2 separate regions of the Homo sapiens genome follow, and region 2 is linked to region 1. A link means that fine-mapping ties the variant in region 1 to the expression of a gene that starts in the linked region. Tissue or cell type: whole blood. Region 1 holds a variant in brackets; the other region holds the start of a gene. All regions are shown on one strand. Distances are from middle to middle.

Region 1 (10,545 bases):
GGAGGGCTCTAAATTTTCTTTCATATGGGATATTTACGTAGAGATGAATTATGCTTAAGAAAAGCATCGTGGCTAAGTGGGAATCTATTTAGATCCTTAATATTGTAACATAGAGTGCCAATAATAGCTATTAACATATTACATTTCCTTTCACAAATCCCAGAAATTAGCTAAGACAACATTTTCTCAAAAGAGAATAGTGTATCTTGCATACATACATAAATATAAAAATCTGAATGCCCAGGACCAGTTACTACCAGTTGAAAGCAAAAATTTCATTAGAAAAAAGTGAGTTAAGATCATCCAAAATAAAATTTCAAGGAACTTTTAACTAATTCACATCAAATAATTAAAGAACCTTTCATGCTTCTACATTTGAAACCTTTGTTTGGTGACGTATCACAACAGACTACTTTCAGGAGTTAATGAGCAAATGTTCGGACCCTAGTTACTGTTCAGTGATATTAGATACACATTGAAGTTAAGTCACTGAACATAATAATAAAGCAGCATTAACTACAATTTTAGGGACCTTCTCAGAGAATAAAAAGGCAAGAGAGATGAAAGCGTAAGTGCAGTCAAATCTTAGCCACAATATCTTCTTTTCCTGTCTAATCTCTGATTTTCCCCATTATCAAGATTTTTTTTTGGAGAACACACACTGACCAATTTTTATCTATATTTAAACAAATAAATCTATTACTACTCAGATCAAAATACTATTATACCATGAACAAAATGCTTTATAAGAGTTTTGAATGTAATAAATCTTGAAATATTTAAAAATAAGCTTAAAATTATCATAAAGGCATTGACAACATGAATAAGTCAAAAAAGAACATAATGTTTGAAATAATGTGGAGTTTTCAATGAATGTTGCAAAAAAAAAAAATAAGTGACTGTAGGTGTAAAGTAGTACAGAAGAGGGAAATAAAGATAACTTCTGTCCACTTTAGCTTTTAACATGCAATGCTTTCCCTTCAACTCCTGAAACTATCACACTGTCAGGGAAGAGGCACCAAATTGTACAGAATGACAACACTTGTATAAGGGTAATGGAAACTAACCAAGCCACTTGACAATGCTCTACCCATGTGTTCCAAAAGTCACCAAAATAGAAGTGCTTTCTAAAATTCAGCACTAATGTTAAGATAATACACACCAAACATTACTAGATAAAAAATTTCTTCCACATTGCTAGCACGTAAGTCACATAAACATTAAGTTATTAAGCCTGAATGTTAGGGATGACACTTGATATTCAGAGAATATGGTTTATGGCTAAGTTTCACGAACATCTTTGCTCATGAAAAAATCTGAAATTAACATATGAAGGTATTACCCCAAAAAAAGGAAGGAAAAAGCTAGAGCTTCTCAGGTTATTAACACTTACTAGCATTTCTTCTTACATAAATTTATGAATACGTGGGTAGAAAAAGCATTTCTACCCCGAATCTAGTTTTATTACCCAAAACATCAACACAGCTTTACAAACCCCTTAAAACCAACTACTCCTCAACTCTCCTTGCTCCACTACTTTGTAATAATCAGCACTTCTCTCCCATTCAGGTACTTGCAAGTCAGATTCTTAAATGACATAAAACATATTCTAAAACTTATGCCCCGCCCCCCCATTGCCCTATTTATGACTGTTAAAATGTAGCAAACATGTTTTGTTTAAAGTTCAAAGTTTGACTCTTCTATATTATCTTGTTTTCTTACATTGTTATAATTATTAATGACCACTGACAGTGGCCAGTGACAGGAACTGTTCTTGCAGGGTCTGCAGATCCCTACTCTATGGCTGCGCAGACTCATGTTCTAACAGCAGCTGATGAAGAGACTTCTGTTGCTCTTGATTTAAGATGAGCCCAATACTTCTTTAAGACATTTTTCAGACTAATGAAAACTAGGCAATTATGACTATTTCCATTAGGCAAGACAATGTTTGCACATAAATCATTCCACACATTCAGGAACTTACAACTACCCTACAAAATACCTTCTTCCTTTTACATCCATATTTTTATACCAATGTTTAAGAAAAACGAACTGAAGGTACATAGGAAACTAAAATCAAGGTTTCCTGACAGCTATATTAGTGTCCTATCCCAGAAGTTACTACAAAGCTATAAACTATTTACTCAATCTTTTTCATGACTATTTTATACAACATCTTTGTCTTTTTGATTAATGTATATAAAGACAAAAAAATTACAGCCAGAATTAATAAGCTATCAGTAACAGCAAAAGGGGAAAGAATGTTTCCCCAAATGTCATTTTGTTTTCCAGCAAAATGTTTGATGCTTCTAATCCTTAACTAAAATAAATTCAGAGCAGAGTGGTTAATAAAATTTTGAGCTTAAATAAGCTTAAATTTATAGTAAAGGCATTAATAATATGAATAAGTATGCAGCATTCTTTTTCTAGCTATCAGTTTCTTCCAGATTGTAAATAAAATTTCTATAACCTGGACTTTACATGACTTTTCAAGAATTTAGCATAATCTACAGAATGAAAAGGTTGGACTAGATAATCTCTAAATCCCTTTCCACTCTATGACTTTATAATTCCAGCTTTTATTGTGGTTTCTTCCTATTCTTTAACCTAAAAAATAAGAATACAAAGGACAAAATAAATACCAAATTAACTTGGTAACTTTAGTCCCAAATCTTTGAATTTCTTCAAAAATGTTCAAAATAAAACCACTGTTTCTTTAGTGATTCATGGGTATAGTGCCATATATCACTTCTTCCACATTTCTTGAGCAGTACTATTCCAAAAAGAATCAAGTTTTCTTCTATATAGACCCCCGAGAGCAAAATCATTATGACAAATACAGTACTAGAAATAAAGTTACTGTAAAAATTACAAATAGATTTATAGAAGAAAATCTGATTTTCATCATGTATATAATTGTTCCAGCCAAAGAAAGCAATATATGCAAAATTATGTTGAATAAAAATGACATATGCCTAAGGAAGGGGGAGTTTTTAGATGTGTAAGTAATGAAGACAGTAGTTAATGCACAAAACATAAGAATCCTTGAGGGATGTCTTGCAAATACCCATACTAACAGCACCAAATCTACTCCTTAGGAATTGCAAAGTAACAGATTTGTAACAAAAACTACAAAAACAATTTTGCAAGGATGTATTAAAAATCCTTATTGAGCCTATAAAGCAGGAACTATAAAGACAGTTCTTTTTATTTTACCACCATTCTTACACTATCCTTTCTTTTTCAGATTCCAGAACTGCCACTCAAAGTGCCCTATGAGGAGCTGTGGTAACAAGGTAAAAGGCAGGAGCCATCCTTTGGAAGCCATCAGCAAGCTCTGTGACCATCAGAGCTATTATCTGTGATCATATACATAACCTGAAGATAGCATATCATACTTTTTTTTAATACTTTCAACTCCAAAAGGCTTTGGGCTTGTAAAAACATAGTTTCAAAGATTTTTATTTTATCAGCCACCATCTCCATTTTTACCTATCCTTCCCATAAATGCAAGGATATGTTTTAGTTCTGAAACATGAAAGTTAATTTGATTTTATCCTGCAACTCTTGAGAACTGATCTTTCTAGCCAGCATAAAGAAAGTATACTGACACAAAAATCTTCAGAAAAAATATAGGAGGATTAAATACTCAATTACTTCCAGGATTGCTTACTCCTTTCCAAAGGGACTGCAAACCCCTTTCCAGAAGGAAATTTCAAACTAAAAAATTTTCTTTCAATCAGAAGTTCAGTGATTTTACTGCCATCTAAAGTAAATTAACTTTGAAAATAAGTATAAAAATTATAATTGTAATTTATTGATTCAAAATTTTGTATTTGGCATTCCTTCTCAAAAATTGTAGTCCAATATAAAATTAGGCCATGTGGAAAACAGTAAAGGCCTTTACTAGATATTCCTAGAAAACACTGAAGCAAGTACTAAATAAAATAAAAATAAGATGTTTTTGAAGGGAGAATCTCGTATACTGAATTTTAATTAGTTTATGTTTAACGATAGCATTTTTAATGAGTTTTAACTCTAACATTTTATGAACAAGCTAATGTATGTAACAATATCAAGAAGCTGCTGCTACTTGATAAATCAAATTTTAATTGTACTGATATAAAAAAGGAAATCTAAAAGAAACTTTAGAGCCCTCAAATGGTAGCTTCTTGACCAATGAATCATTACGTTTTTCATGTTCACAGTTCAGATAAGCTTAAAAATGGAAATGGGAAACCTCAACCAAAGGATAAACAATTTTTACATTAAGTTACTATTAAAAAGGCTTTCTGAAAATATTTCTTTCTACTCTGTATTGGCTCTTAAGAAGGTTAAGAATAGAAAATCACTCTGTTAAAGAAGAGTAATAACAAATAACCTATGGGATCAAAACAAGAGAACAACTGTTGTAGGTCTTTTACCTGTATAATTCTAAGCATAATCTTTTATCAGCTTTCCATTTTTAGGACATTCTTAGGAACAGAATGCCCCTTATCTGAACTTTATCAGATCATGTAGAAATATATTTTTCAGACAAATTTAACATTTGAGTTTTGTATGTCAGTAATATACTCCTTTAAAGACAGGGAAGCGCCATTCATACTC[A/T]TTCATTCAGAAAGATGACAAAGAAAATGTTTTCAATAAATTATTAATGAAATATTTCTCCAACATACATAGGACAACTGAGATTCACTTCCAATCAAAAGCAATAACCCTCATGCTGGACAGTTATCTTTCACATTTTATATGATAGAATTATGATAAAAATAGGTTTTGAAGCAGCCTTAGATAAGAATATAACTAAAAGTATGCCAAAGGATTTATTTAGAATTTTCAGATAATAAAAAGGTAAGTTTTTGGTTGTGCAATGCACATCCATGTAAATATATTTGCTTTTTCAAAAGCAAATTTAGTATTCTTAAGTTTCCTGAGTGACAATCTCATAAATTTTGGTGGAAATGACAGCAACATTGGGTTATTTCAATTATGCATGGAGACCTCATAAAATGAGTTTTTTAAAATGCTCGCTCAACAGCAGGTCACCTATCTCTATACAACATCAGAAAATAATAGTACCTCTCTCAAAATTGCCTCAAAGAGCAACAGTAAGAGGAAAAAACAACCATGCAATGGTTTACTCAAACTGCTTTCCCTGTTGAGGGGGTACAGTAACTGAATACTCGTCTATGAACAATTTTTACATGTTCATCAATAGTTTATGTTCCAATCTAGTTTTGGTAAAGTCAGCACTCGAATTTGACAGGGGCTTAAATATGCCGTCATCTTTTCTGAAGATGACGGCATATTTTGAAAACAATGTATAAGTTTTAAATTTTTTAAGTCCCATTCTTCCAATTCAGGATATATGCTGAATGCTGAGGCAGTTGTTAGACCTTATAAGTTACTATGATATTAGAAATTAATAATAAAAATAAAGCTGACAGAATTTTAGCATTAAACTTGGTTTAACTATACCATCTTTCTTATGAACAGCGCTTCTCTGTTTAAGAAAAGCTCATCTCTGAATTATGCCTACTCACATGAAAAACTGGGAACCATTGGTATGTTTCCCTCGATTTGCCATTGATAAAAGGAACGCTCTGTCATGTTTGAGAATAAAGTTTTCATCTGTTTGAAGAAAACACAAATTTGTCAGTCTCCAATTATAAGTCACTTTAAAGTAATGTTCAAGTAATAAATAGAAAGCAAAAGATGAAATTCCTCTTCTGGTCAGTACAGATAACTTGACTGAACACTCAGAAAAGAAAAATTTAAGCTAATCAAATAACAAAAGCATAAAAAGGCCAAAAGATACTAATTAAAGCCTTGAGGAAAAGAACATATATTTAATACTTCACACAAACAGCCTTAGAACAGTCACTTTTAGTAGTAACATACTTTGGCTAAATGATATTTAAATTATTAACTTTCAGGGAAAACTAATAAAATTTTAGAAAAATCTCTAGCTTACTTCCTCCAAATTTCCAATTAGCTTGCCTAATGTGCTATACATGGAAGAAGTTCAATAATCTTTTTAGGTGTTTAATTTTTATACGGTAAATTTATTATTCAACTTAATTGAAGCTAGACTGTAAGACAAAAAAATTATGTTATATTAAGTTACAGGAACATATCTAAATTAAGTATGTGTATACTCAATTGTATCACAAAATTATCTAAGGAAGAAAGCCCTGTGAAACAAAAATTTAAATAGCAAAATACAATTTTAAGGTACAAAAGTATCTGCCACAAGGAACAACCACAAAGTGGCCTACAGCATTAGTTTTAAATTGCTACATAACAGAACCAGCTAAATAGCTGTTTCCTACTAGTTCAAAGGAAAAAAAAATCTGTGATAAAGATCACTTAGAGTTATTTTAATTCCAGCAGGAATATCCTTGAAAACTAACTTATATGTCCTTTTAACATTCATACAAACAAATCTTCTTCAGAACAAACAGAAACACAGAAAACTTTAAAAAGTGATTACCTTGGGAACAGGCTTCTGAAAAAGAGTAGTAATCCATTTTCCCCCAAAGGAAATATAAAAGACTATTATAACACTGAAGCTATTATAGCGTTAAAACCTAGTAATATTAGATTTCATTACAAATCTCTGCAACTGACTTTTCTAAGGCTTTTTGGGGCAAGTGCAATAGTTAGATTTATGCAGATGCTACTATTATGAGAATAAACACAGTCATAGTTCTAATATACAAAAGAAAACATACAAACCTTTGAAAAACGAAATTTCAACTTTTATTCAAAGAAATTGCTTGGTTTAGGGGAAAAAAAACCCCACAACTAGACTCTTTTCTCTGATGTGAAATTAATAACCCATTGGGAAATGAAAAAAGATACAGAAGCATGTATGAAATAATACACAGAATTTTCCAAGTCTTCAAGCAATATAGAAATCCAGCCACAACCTGACCCAGACTGTCCATAAATTTATTAGGAAGGGTGCAAGGGAACAGAATTGGAGTTTGTGTTACTGAGCTTCGTTCTCTTACCTTTTCATTTTGCAAAAGACCACATTCTCTATAAACAAAAGAATATGTTGACAGTTTTAGGCAGGAAGATAGGAGTTTTCATGTATATAGTTGCCTAACCTCCATGCTGAAAGTCATGTTTAACCATAAAGTTAGCCTTAATTAATCTTGTCAATTAAAAATTATATATTACAATATAATTTATCCCCAAATTCATGCAAATAAAGTATTTTCATGCAGCATTAGTTTCATGCAAAAAGTGAACTATAAGTAAACCTCTTCTCATTAAAAGTATATGATCAAACTTGCTTTAATATCAGAACTGAAACAAAAGACCGTAAAATATTAAGCCTTACCTTTAAAATATCCACCATAAATTGATTCTCCACCTTTTCCATTACCTGCAAATAATCACCTACTTTAAGCCATAATGAACATTAAAAATATACTAACACAGAAATCATTTTTGATAGCTTCAATTCGCTGAAGGAAACCTTGGAATGTTATAACTGCTGCAATAATCAAAATTCTCAGAGTCCTCAATTAACTTCATCTGTAAAATATATGTCAAGTCCCATTACAAGAAATACCATCAAAAAAGTCATCTTCACAACCTACTTATTTCAAACAGTAATAACACCAAAAACATTCCAGAACAAAAGCAATCAGACAGTACTTTGGCATTCATTGTAAAGGAATTCACTAAGTAACTATAATATTAATAAAATAAACTGCATAAAAACAAAATAAAATGTCTTACGTGGTACTTTGCTTTTTCATACATTCTGGACCTATAATATTCACTCATCCAACAAGTATTCACTGACCACATTTTATATCATACTGTAACTGACACAATATTTAGAACTAAAAGTAATAATGAAATACTTTAAAAACTGATAGATGGAGTTATTAGGAACACAACTTTTAGCTCTACCTTCACTGAAGTCCCCACCCTGAATCATAAAGTTTTTAACCACACGATGGAACGTAGAACCTTTATAACATAACTTCTTCCCAGTTGTTTTCCCAAGGCCTTTCTCTCCTGGAAAAAAAAAAAAAAAAAAGAAATGAAGTTTAATTATTTATACATCCTTCCATGGAAAGAACAAACCAATTAATCCTGTGTCAAATCTTTCCTGTGTGCTAGGCACTGGAAGAGATATAAGAAATAGATGACATGATAATTTAACATACACACATGCACGCAAACCAAAATAAATAATCCAAAGCAGCATGTAAATGTAAAATTGTGTGGTACAGACTCTACATGCTATAGGACATAATACTAGACACACTTATCACTCTAGTCAAAGAATGAGGTCAGGCGCAATGGCACACGCCTGTAATCCCAACATTTTGGGAGGCCGAGGCAGATCACTTGAGGTCAGGAGTTTGAAATCAGCTTGGCCAACAGGGTGAAATTCTGCCTCTAAAAAAAAAAATACAAAAATTAGCCAGGTGTGGTGGCACAGGCCTGTAGTCCCAGCTACTCAGGAGGCTGAGGCAGGAGAATCACTTGAATCTGGGAGGTGGAGGTTGCAGTGAGCTGAGATCACACTACCGCACTCCAGCCTGTTTTTGAGACAAGAGTCAGACTCCGTCCCAAATAAATAAATAACAAAATCAAGGAGTTAGTGCAAAAATTGCATATGTGTATCCAAGTAAGAATTTAAAATTTCAGTGTGTTCTAATTTTTTTTTTTTTTTTTTTGAGACAAAGTCTGGCTCTTGTCCCCCAGGCTGGAGTGCAATGGCGCAATCTTGGCTCATTGCAAGCTCCGCCTCCCGGGTTCAAGTGATTCTCTTGCCTCAGCCTCCTGAGTAGCTGGGATTACAGGCGCCTGCCACTACGCCCGGCTAATTTTTGTATTTTTAGTAGAGACGGGGTTTCACCATGTTGGCGAGGCTAGTCTTGAACTCCTGACCTCAGGTGATCCACCTGCCTCGGCCTCCCAAAGTGCTGGGATTACAGGCTTGAGCCACCGCACCCGGCCAGTTTGTTCTAATTTTAAAGTAACATTATAGATGTTTCCCTCCCCATTTTTTCTATTTATTTAAAATTTATTGTAAAATTTGGAATACTAAATTTTTTCAAAGTAGTGAAATTCATAAAATTCTACCAAATCAGTTTTGAATGTGTGCTATTATTTTATAAATTAAAATGTATAGAGAAGATTCCATTATATAACGTAGATTCTTACTCTCTTTTTCATTTTTGAGATCATTCCTTTCTAATCTCTTCCCCTTAAGAAATGCTTCCCTGATTTCATATAAAAGTCAGTATAAGTAACTCTTTTTTTTTTTTAATTCACAAAACTAATTTCACGAGTCCATTATTCTTCCAGGAAAATATCTATTCTGTTCAGCAAGGTAAAACTGTAAGCCACAGCTTCTCATTGGAAATAATAATTCACTTACCTGAGCACAAGCAAAGGAAGTTTTTGCATGTTTTTGGACATATGTCTGAGAAGAGCTGAAACATAATGCGACCAACTGAAATAAAATACATAGGAAAAAAATAGTAAGCAAGTTAAATATATCACATTTAAATGGGAGAAAGAAACAGGGCTAACAAATTAGAAAGTCTATTTTTGTAATTCATTTTAATTTTTTAAAAGATGTAATGGGAAAGCATTTAACTGGGTGATACCTATGAACAAGAACACCATTTTATTTGTTATTGTTAAAATTTACATGCAGCCAAATTGGTTCCAGCCCCAAAATTATAGGATTTTAAGTGTGTTTTAAAGGAACTTTGTATTATTAGATTCCTCGTAGTATAGTTCCCTATCTGAACTATAAATCTTCTTTAAAAATACTCTCAATAGTTGTTTGATTTATGCTTGGGCCCTTCCAGTGATGAGAGTACATCAAAAGACAGTAATTCTGGCCAGTATTGTTAAGAAACATCTCTGTCTCTTTATTTTCAGCTTTCTTCCTTTAAGCAAGAACTGTTAAGAGCCACCTTCCTGAATTGCACCAATCACACTTAAAATTCACATTTTAAGCTGGGCATGGTGGCTCACACCTATAATCCCAGCACTTTGGGAGGCTGAGGCAGGGAGGGTTGCCTGAGGTCAGGAGTTTGAGACCAGCCTGGGCAACACAGAACGACCCCTGTCTCTACAAAAAATTTTAAAAATTAGCGGGGGATGGTGGCACATGCCTGTAGTTATTGGGGAGGCTGACGTAGGAGGTTCACTTGAGCCCAGGATTTCAAGGCTGCAATGAGCTATGATCATGCAGTGAGCTTTGATTGTGCCACTGCACTCTAGCCTAGGTGACAGAGCAAGACTCTTAAAATAATACTCCCCATCCTATCCCCTGAGAGAGCAGAAAGAGAAGAGGTTATGCTTCCCTACAACAAACACGAGATTACAAGGAAAAGTCAGCAACTTCAATTTAACTATGCCAGAGAAAAATGGTTCTCAAACTCTGGTCTCAGGGCTCTTTTAAACTCATTACTGAGCTTTTGTTTATGTAGTTCATATCTATTGCTATATACCATATTAAATGTTAAAACTCAGAAATGTTTAAAACACAAGAAT
Region 2 (10,545 bases), 21 kb after region 1:
ATGAGCTATTTTGAATGTGAGTCTAAAGTTTAGTTTAATTTTGAATATAAGCAAATTTTCCTGTCCTGTTAGCTTTGGAACCAAATTAAGAACAAAACTGTATAGTAGTTCCATTTCACAAAGAGGTTGTTAAACGGCTTGACCAAGGACACAAGTAGTACTCAAACATTTGCCTGAATCCTTTGTCGCCTCTTAAGACTAATTTCTTGGTATCACTTCTAAATACTTTACAATGTTTGCTAAAAACACATTTTCCAGTCTGTTTTTATGAATCTTAAGCAGTAAAGCAAATCTAAACATAACTAATTATATTAAATGTATACAGTTAAACATACTGACTAAAAGACATTGTCAGAGTGGGACAAGACCCATCTATTTGCTATCCAGAAGAAATCCACTTTAAATATTATACAGAAAGGTTAAAAGTAAAAGGATTGAAAATGATATACCATGTAAACACTAATAAAACGGAAGTAACTATATTCATATCTGAGGCAAAGGAAACTTCAGAGCCAGGAAAGTTACTAGGAATATAAGGTGTCATTACATAATAATAAAAGAGTTCACTAAGAAGACAACAATCCTAAATATGTATGTACCCACCTAAGAGCCTCAAAATGAATGATGCAAAAACTAAGAGAACTTAAAAGAGAAATACGGCCGGGCATGATGGCTCATGCCTGTAATCCCAGCACTTCGAGAGGCCGAGGCAGGTGGATTGCTTGGGCCCAGGAGTTCAAGACCAGCCTGGGCATCATGAAGAAACCCTGTCTCTACTAAAAATACAAAAAATTAGCCAGGCATGGTAGCTCACACCTGTAGTCCCAGCTACTGGGGAGGCAGAGGCACGAGAATCACTTGAACCAGGAAGGCAGAGGGTGTGGTGAGCCAAGATCATGCCACTGCACTCCAGCATTCCAGCCTGGGCGACAGAGCAAGACTCAGTCTCAAAAAAAAAAAAAAAAAAAAAAAAAAAAAAAAAAAAAAAGGAGAGAAATAGATAAATCCACAATTACAGTTGTTATAGTTGCAGACTTCAATACTCTTCTCCTGGTAATCAATAAACAAGTAGAAAATCAGCAAAGATATAAAAGAATTGACCAACACTAATAGCCAACTGGATTTGACATTTATAGAACACACTACACAAAAATGTACATTCAAGTGCAGAATGTACATTCAAGTGCACAAAGAACGGAAATCATGTGTGTTCTCTAGCCATAATGGAATTAAATTAAAAGTCATTTGAGACTGTCTCAAAAAAAAAAGGTATCAAATCAACAATCTATGCTTCAACATTAAGAAACTAGAAAAAGAACAAAATAAAAATTGAAGCAAGCATTAGAAAGAAAGAGAACAATGAAATTGAAAACAAAAATAGAAACAAAATTCAATCAGATCAAAATCTGGTTCTCTGAAAATGTATAATGAATAAACCTCTCGTCAGACTGACAAAGGAAAAAGACAAAAGGAAGAATTATCAATATCAGGAATGAAAAGAGACACCACTACAGACCCCACAGATATTAAAAGAGGCTGTGACAAACAACTCTAAGCACATAAACTTGACAACTTAGATAAAATGCACCAATTTCTTTAATAAAAACCACAGGCTAGGCACCGTGGCTCACACCTGTAATTCTAGCACTTTCGGAGGCCGAGGTGGGCGGATCACTTGAGGTCAGGAGTTCAGACCAGCCTGGCCAACATGATGAAACCCTGTCTCTAATAAAAATACAAAAAAATTAGCCAGGGGTGGTGGCACATGCCTGTAATCCCAGCTACTAGGGAGGCTGAGGCAGGAGAATCGCTTGAACCTGGGAGGCGGAGGTTGCACTGAGCCGAGATGGCACCACTGCACTCCAGCCTGGGTGAAAAAGTGAGACTTCGCCTCAAAAAAAAAAAAAAAAAAAAAGTTGTGTAAAATCCACTATTTAGTTAATATACTCAAAAAGTGCTAGTTATTTCACAAGACTGAACCATATGAAATTTCCAACTATCAAATGATTAAACCTAGAACAATGTAAGCATTGCATTTCCTTGTTTTATATGATTCGGCGTTCTCAAGAGTGCTAATCACATCTACACATCTATCACAATGAATTGCCTTGGATGTTGAGGAATGAGGTTCATTGAACATTTGTCAAACATATTCTGGAGATTTTTCACAACACAGGTTATGTGCAAATCTAGGATCTGAACATTTACTAGGAAAGGAGTACTTAACTACAGAAATTTTTATTTGTACTTTTTCTTAAGCTGTTTTTTTTTTTTTTTTTTTTTTTTTAGAAACAAGATCTTGCTCTGTTGACCAAGCTGGAGTGCAGTGGTGCAATCATAGCTCATGGCAGCCTTAAACTCCTGAGCTCAAGCCATCCTCCCACCTCACCCTTCCAAGTACAGGTGAGCACCACCATGCCTGGCTAATTAAAAAAAAATTGTTTTTTGTAGACAGGGTCTTGCTATATTGCCCAGGCTGGTCTCAAACTCCTGGGTTCAAGCAATCCTCCTGCCTGGGCCTCCCTAAGTACTGGGATTACTGGTATGAGCCACCATGCTTGGTCATACTTCTACTCTTCAGCAATCTACTATTTTTCTTTTCTTTTCTTTTTTTTTTTTTTTGAGACAGGGTCTCACTCCGTCACCCAGGCTGACATGCAGTGGTATAATCTCTACTCACTGCAACCTCTGCTTCCCAGGCTCAAGCAGTCCTTCAGTCTCAGCCTCCCAAATAGCTGGGACTACAGGCAAAAACTAAGAGAGCCACCATGCCCAGCTAATTTTTTTATTTTTTGTAGAGATGGGGTTTCGCCATGTAGGCCAGGCTGGTCTCGAACTCCTGACCTCAAAATGATACACCCGCGTCTGCCTCCCAAAGTGCTGGGATTACAGGCGTGAGCTATTTTTAATTCTTAATAGAAAATAACCCTGTTATCTAAAGCATGGATTCACTACAAAATAAAGATTAAGGTCCATCAAGGCTTTCTAGTAACACTTATTTAAAAAAAAAAAAAAAAAAGATCAATCAAGGCTAAAAACATTAAAAAGAGAGAGAAGGCAACCAAATTTCCAGGATTATCTCATCCCTTTGCTCGAAACCCTTTAATATCTTCCTACCTCACTGAGTCAGTCCTACAGGCCATTTCTTACTATTCTCTTTCCTCTTCTACTCCAGCCACACTGGGCACCCTGCTGTCCCTCAAACATGCAAGTACAGTCCTCCATTGTTTAATAACCAGGACGGATTCTGAGAAATGTGTAATTAGGCAATTTCGTCATTGTGTGAACATCATGGAATGTATTTAAACACACCTAGATGGTACGGCCTACTACACACCTAAGCTATATAGTCTATTTGCTCCTAGGCTACAAACCTGTACAGGATGTTACTCCACTGAATACCGTAGGCAACTTTAACACAATGAAGTATTTGTATATCTAAACACAGCTAAACATTAAAAAGTTACCAAAAAAAGGTATTATATATAAGACCATTGTTAAAGATAGAAATGTCATTTGGCGCCTGACTGTATACTACTCCTCACCTCAGGGCTGTGCTGTTTCCCTCTACCACGAATGCTCTTCTTAAATACGGCTCACTTCATCTCCTTCTGATACCTGCTTAAATCTCATCTTCTCAAAATGGCCTTGTCTGACCAACTTATTAAAATAGTATCCCAACTACAAGTCACTGTTATTTTTTTCCTAGTTGTCCGTCTTCCCCCCAATAGAATATAAACTATAAAAGGAAGAGGCCTTTGTTTTATGCGCTGCTCTATCTCCAGACCCTAGAACAGTAGCAGGCTCTCATAAGAATATGCAGAACAAGATGTTGCACAAAGACAACACATATATATATGTCTCCAATTAAAACTTTTGTCACGGATAACAAAAAAAGCTAAGAAAACAGTTTGAAACCCTGCACGCTCTGCTACTTAGAATGAAATAACTATGCTTTAGAAGGAAATGTTTCATTTAAAAAAAATACACTAACAAATGTCTGGATTCCCTAAAGACAAACATTAATGCTAAGTGCATGCATGCTGCAATTCTGCTGGTACAAAATGCTCTGGTTTATCACAAAAGATCTTCACTAAGCCATTTTCCCAGGAACCACGAAATTCTAGCTAAAGATTCTTAAGGAAAAATAGAGGCAAAATTAACATATTAGTGATATATCGTGATTAGGAAACACACAATATTTCCTACTAGTTGAAACTTCATAGCACCAAGCAAGATAACCGGAAATCGGATCGGGAGTGTCTGCCTCACGGAGACACTGGGAGAGAAAAAGTCCTCAAAGAACTGCACCTCCTTTTCTTGGCGCCAGGCTGGCTACGAGGACTCAGTCCGGAGATGCAGCGGGGTGTGTGGGGTTTGGCAGGAAGAGGCCCGGACTGCGAGTTAGGGGTGTGCCCAGGCCACCTTCCTCTCCCACTGATTTTCTCTCAAGAGAAAACGGAAAGTTGCCTGCGCCTCCTACCCGCTCCCAAAAAGGCCGGGGGAGGGTTGCTGAGGGTAGACCCCTCCCCTTCGCCAAGGCAGGCCTCGGCCCCAGCAGCGCTCCCCAGTTTCCAGCTCACCCGGCTCCCGGTTGATCTCGATGTCGAAGTGGCACTGCGGCCGGTCCTGCGCCCCCATCGCGACCGAGGTGGCGGCAAGAGCTGGGAGAGAGGGGGAGAAAAGCGGTCAGGGCAGGGGCGAGGGCGGGGGCGAGGGCAGGGGCGAGGGCGGGGCTGAGACGAAGTCCGCGCCACGGTGCCTCACGCCGGCCCGTCGCGACAGCGCAGGAGGCCAAGACGAGGCCCCCTCCCGCCCCGGGCCTCGCGGCTCCCACGCAGCGCGCACGCATGCGGGCGAGCTCTTCACCTGGCTGGCCTCCAGCCTGAGCGGGTCCCCGTGAGCAGAAGAGAAAGCACTGCCACTGCAGCCAAACCCCAACGCCGCTAACGGAACGCCGTCTCCTCCCCCAGGCCGGGCCTCCCAATGCCACGCTAAACCCCGCGAGAGTCGGGACAAATACCGCGAGAGTACAGTCTAGATGGGGGTGGTCAACCGAAGGTGGCGGCAGCGGGGGCGTACGCACGGGGGCGTACGCACGGGGGCGTGTCTGGGGAGCTCTCGAGGAGCCTCCAGCCAGCGCTCCTATACCTGCGCGTTCCCTGTTTGCCCCCCCCTTTGAAGTCAGTCGCCCAATCTGAAAGCCGTGGATGCGCCTGCGCCCTCCATCTCGTCAGGTGTGGCTGTGAGCGCCGCGCATTTTCCGATACCGCGAGACTTCTCTGTTTCCGAGCGCTGTGAAGGAACTGAGTGAATTGAGGCTTTGAGTTTTCGTTAGCCAAGACGTTGTGTTGCTCTGTGTTCTTTTTGGCCGGGAGTGGTTATGTCCGTGTCCTACTGTTAGGTCTTTTAGGCTGAAGAATGCGTTCCTTCCCGCTTTGGCACCAGCGTCACTGGCACCGTTTTTGTCCTGTGCTTACTGACCATTCTGCATCTTTTGTGAAGTTTCAGTTCCAGTCTTCTGCCCGTTTTTAAATCTGGTCCTTCGTGTTTAACAGTTCTGGATACAAATGTTTTGTTAGATATATGTATGCTCTGAATGAAAATCTTTTGTTACATAAATGATTGCGAAGTCTTTTTCCCAATCTGGGCCTGTCGTTTCATTGTTTTGACGTTTTTGGCAAAGAAGTTTTTAATTCTGATTAAGTCAATTGGTCAGTTTTATATTTTAATGGTTTGTGCTTTTCCTGTGCTAGGAAATCTCTGCCTACCTCAAGTTCTTGAAGATATTCTGTGTTCTCATATATGTTTTACATAGTCTTTAACGTGTAAGTCTATGATATGATCTAATATCATTAATTTTTGCTTATGTTGTCAAGTAAGTGTCAACATTTTCCTATTGGGATATACAGTCGTTCCATTACCGTTTGTTGAAAAGACTCTTTTTTTTTTTTTTGAGACGGAGTCTCGCTCTGTCGCCCAGGCTGGAGTGCAGTGGCGGGATCTCGGCTCACTGCAAGCTCCGCCTCCCGGGTTCACGCCATTCTCCTGCCTCAGCCTCCCAAGTAGCTGGGACTACAGGCGCCCGCCACTACGCCCGGCTAATTTTTTGTATTTTTAGTAGAGACGGGGTTTCACCGTTTTAGCCGGGATGGTCTCGATCTCCTGACCTCGTGATCCGCCCGCCTCGGCCTCCCAAAGTGCTGGGATTACAGGCGTGAGCCACCGCGCCCGGCCTGAAAAGACTCTTATACATTGAATTACCTTCGCCTTGTGACCATATATGTGTGGGTCTGTTTCTGGATTTTTGTTCCAATGATCTGTGTCTGAGTACCACACTATTTTATAAGTTTTTTTTTTAAACTATAAAATACACATTACATGGGCGGGCGTGGTGGCTCATGCCTGTAATCCCAGCACTTTGGGAGGCCGAGGCAGGCGGATCACGAGGTCAGGAGATCGAGACCATCCTGGCTAACACGGTGAAACCCTTTCTCTACTAAAAATACAAAAAATTAGCCGGGCGTGGTGGCGGTCGCCCGTAGTCCCAGCTACTCGGGAGGCTGAGGCAGAAGAATGGCGTGAACCTGGGAGGCAGAGCTTGCAGTGAGCCGAGATCGGTCCACTGCATTCCAGCCTGGGTGACAGAGCGAGACTCCGTCTCAAACAAAAAAAATCTATCTATAGATCTATAGATCTACAGATATCTAGATATCTATAGATCTATAGATATATATACACATTATGTGAAAGTTGCCATTTTAACCATTTTTAAGTGTACAGTTCGCTGGCATTAACTGTATTTCACACGGTTGTACAACCCTCAGTACCTCCCATCCGTCCACAGAACATTTTCCATCTTGCAAAACTGAAACTCTGTATTATTAAACAGTAACTCCCCATTTCCCTCTTTTCCCAAGTTCCTGGCAGCCACCCTTCTACTTTCTCTCTGTAAATTTGTCTACTCTAGTATTTGTCTACTCATATGTGAGTAAAATCATGTAATATTTGTTCTTGTAGGCTAGGTGCGGTGGCTCACACCTGTAATCCCTGCACTCTGGGAGGCTGAGGCGGGTGGATCACATGAGGTCAGGAGTTCGAGACCAGCCTGGCCAACATGATGAAACGCCGTCTCTACTAAAAATACAAAAAATTAGCAGGGCGTGGTGGCAGGCACCTGTAATCCCAGCTACTCAGGAGGCTGACGCAGGAGAATCACTTGAACCCGGGAGGCAGAGATTGCAGTGAGCCGAGATTGCGCCACTGCACTCCAGCCTGGGTGACAGTGCGAGACTCTGTCTCAAAAAAAAAAAAAAAAAAATTTGTTCTTTTGTAGCTGGGTGATTTCACTCAGCATGTCTTCCATTTCATCCATGTTGTAGCATGTCAGAATTTCCTTTTTTGAGGCTGAATAATATTCCATTGTATGTGTATATCATATTTTGTCTATCCATTCATATGTCAGTGGATATTTAGATTGCTTCTACCTTTTGGCTGTTGTAAATAGTACTGTTATGAATGTGGGTGTACAAATACCTCTTTGAAACCTGCTTTCAATTATTTTGGATATATGCCCAGAAATGGAATCACTGGATCATAAGCTAATTCCATTTAAGATTTTTCCAGGAATTACCATACTGTTTTCCATAGCTGCACTATTTTACATTTCCATCAGCAGTGCACAAAGTTTCCAATTTTTCCACATCATCACCAACACTTGTTATTTTTTGGTTTTCTTTATTGCCATCCTAATGGATGTGAAGTGGCACACTGTTTTAATTAATGTAGTTTTATAGTAAATTTGGAAATTGGGCTCACTTAGATTGGGTGTCCAATCTTTTGGTTTACCTGGGCCACATTGGAAGAATAATTGTCTTCAGCCATACATAAAATACACTAACACTAACAATAGCCAATGAGCTTAAAATTGCAACAAAATCTCATATTTCTTGAAAGTTTATGAGTTTGTGTTGGGCTGCACCCAAAGTTGTCCTGGGCCACATGTGGCCCCTGGGTGGCGGGTTGGACAAGCTTGACTTAGATCATTTCTGACCTGTTTCTGCACCTATGTCACCTTTTTTTTTTTTTTTTTGAGACAAAGTCTCGCTCCGTCGCCCAGGTTGGAGTGCAGTGGCACGATCTTGGCTCACTGCAACCTCTGCCTCCTGAGATCAAGCGATTCCCCTGCCTCAGCCTCCAGTGTAGCTGAGACTACAGGCACACGCCACCACACCTGGCTAATTTTTTTGTATTTTTAGTAGAGACAGGGTTTCACCATGTTGGTCAGGCTGGTCTCGATCTCCTGACCTTGTGATCTGCCCGCGTTGGCCTCCCAAAGTGCTGGGATTACAGGCATGAGTCACTGCACCCAGCCGTCCATGTCACCTTTTTAAAGTACAGTCAAACCTTTGGTACTTCCACACCATCACAGAAGTGCTGTCCTTTGTTAGAGCTTGCCCATTCTACCTCCCTGAGAGTCCAGTGTGTCTATTAGAGGAGCAGTCTGTAGGCTGAATTGAGAAGCTAGCGGTCTTGGGTCTGATTTTGCTGACAATTACAGACTTGAACAGTATGAAATGTACATGCCTTTCTGGAGATGAAATAGTTTGATAAAGCTAACTTTCATACATGGATTCATGAAAGGAAAGGATGGAGACCATTACCCAGCTTTGTAATTACCGTGTTTAGGACATCAGGCTTCAATGTAAATAGGTTTTAGAGCTCAGGAATGAAATATTTAATTTGGGATATACTTAAACAACTTTAAACCTAGAATTCATTCTTATCTTGACATTCCAGCAATTCTCTTCTTTCTGCCACTGGTTATGTGACCTGAGACAAATCACTTTGATCTCTCTGAAGTTTACTTTCTTCATCTGTAAAATAAATGAGATAAAATATCTCCTTTCTAAGGTTCTGCCTCTCTCAAAGATTATTTTATTCTGTCTTGTGATTTGAAATTATATTTTAGATGATTCGAAGATAAAAGTATGCAATTTGGTCTGTGATTAAGGTGAAGAAACTCCTGGGACAAGGCAGGCCTAGGGCTAGTATCAACCAAAATGACTGACACCTCCTCCATCTCTTCCAAGAGTGGTAGAAAGTTGGTATCCAAAGAGTTTACAAACTCAGGCTTAATTTGTCCATGATTTATCATGAAGAAGAACCACTGGTAGTACGAATTTTCAGGTAATGATTCTGGGGTTCAGCCTTTTAGAGTGTGATTATGCCAGCAATTAGAACTTCAGGGGATAGGACTCTGGAAAACCATCAGGAATGCTAGTGGGGAAACAGACAAAATAATTTTCTAGAAAACAGAAATGATCGGCTGGGCGCGGTGGCTTACGCCTGTAATCCCAGCACTCTAGGAGGCTGAGGCAGGTGGATCACCTGAGGTCGTGAGTACGAGACCAGCCTGACCAACATGGAGAAACCCCGTCTCTACTAAAAATACCAAAATTAGCCAGGCATGGTGCCACATGCCTGTAATCCCAGCTACTTGGGAGGCTGAGGCAGGAGAATCACTTGAACCCAGGAGGTAGAGGTTGCAGTGAGCCAAAATTGCACCACTGCACTCCGACAGAGCGAGATTCCGTCTCAAAAAAAAACAAAAACAAAAACAAAACAAAACAAAACCAAAAAAAAGAAGAAAAAGAAAAAAGAAAGAGCCAGAGCCCTCAGCACATTAGTGCTAACATAGATTAACATGTGCCCAGTTCTCAACCACGTTATCTCAGTCTCACAACCTCAGGAGGCAGATGCTATTTTCATTATCCTCACTTTAGAGGTGAGGAAACAGAGCTTTCAGAGGTTAAGGGATAGAGCTGGGATTCAAAATGAGTTATCTCTTCACTATTTACATGTATTTTACAGTTGCCCTAGGTTGCAACCCTTGACTCCAAAAAAAGGAGCAGGGACCTGGGCTTCTAATTTTGGATATACTTACAAGAATCCCTTTGCCTCATCTTTCAGATAAATCTCCAAGAGTGAAAGTTTTTTATAGAATACAGCTAATAAAGTCAGAAAGAATGATAAATTAGAAAATCCTCATTATGTAATCCCTAATGAATTACCACATCAAAGCTGGGTGGATCATAATTTAAGTGAAAGGCTGGTTGGGAACTTAAAAGTCAGGTCACTCCTTATGTGATGCAAAAGCAAGTACTTATCACCTTCTAATATATTCCTGCTAAAAATATTAGAACATGAGTCTGCATGAGCCTCTAGATCTACTAGTTTACAGGAAAAGTGGATGATAGTGGCACATAATTAACAACACTACAGAGATACAACTGTATGTAGAACACGAGAGAATTCTAGGGTAAACACCTAGTTATTTCAACAAATAAAGAAAAAAAGGAACTATTAAGTATTCTTTAAGTGACTTAAAGGAACATCAACAAAATACAACATGTGAATCTTATTTGGATTCTGGTTCAGACAAATCAACAAAAAGACTATCTGATAACTGAAGAAAATTAAACATCATCTATTATCAGATGATATTAGATAATAATTAGAAATCACTATTCATTTTGTTGGCAA

The links. PIP is the estimated chance that this variant, and not a neighbour inherited with it, causes the effect.
Region 2: NKTR starts here. The variant in region 1 is fine-mapped to the expression of NKTR in whole blood (INTERVAL, PIP 0.97).

Annotation. Positions count from the first base shown.
Region 1 is chr3:42,616,515-42,627,059 of GRCh38, reverse strand. It overlaps NKTR (natural killer cell triggering receptor), which reads right to left. Exons shown (of 17, transcript NM_005385.4): 3 at 9,416-9,490; 4 at 7,933-8,040; 5 at 7,352-7,396; 6 at 5,544-5,631. It overlaps ZBTB47-AS1 (ZBTB47 and NKTR antisense RNA 1), which reads left to right. Exons shown (of 3, transcript NR_125400.1): 2 at 3,248-3,296. Among named protein-coding and RNA genes, the nearest start is that of NKTR, 21 kb to the right of the region's middle. The variant A/T (reference allele first, on the strand shown) is at 4,609.
Region 2 is chr3:42,595,103-42,605,647 of GRCh38, reverse strand. It overlaps NKTR (natural killer cell triggering receptor), which reads right to left and starts at 4,962. Exons shown (of 17, transcript NM_005385.4): 1 at 4,870-4,962; 2 at 4,584-4,664. The coding sequence starts at 4,641. SS18L2 (SS18 like 2) reads right to left here. Exons shown (of 3, transcript NM_001370300.1): 3 at 8,714-10,545. It also overlaps a transcript of SEC22C not described here. RefSeq lists a silencer at 4,659-4,868.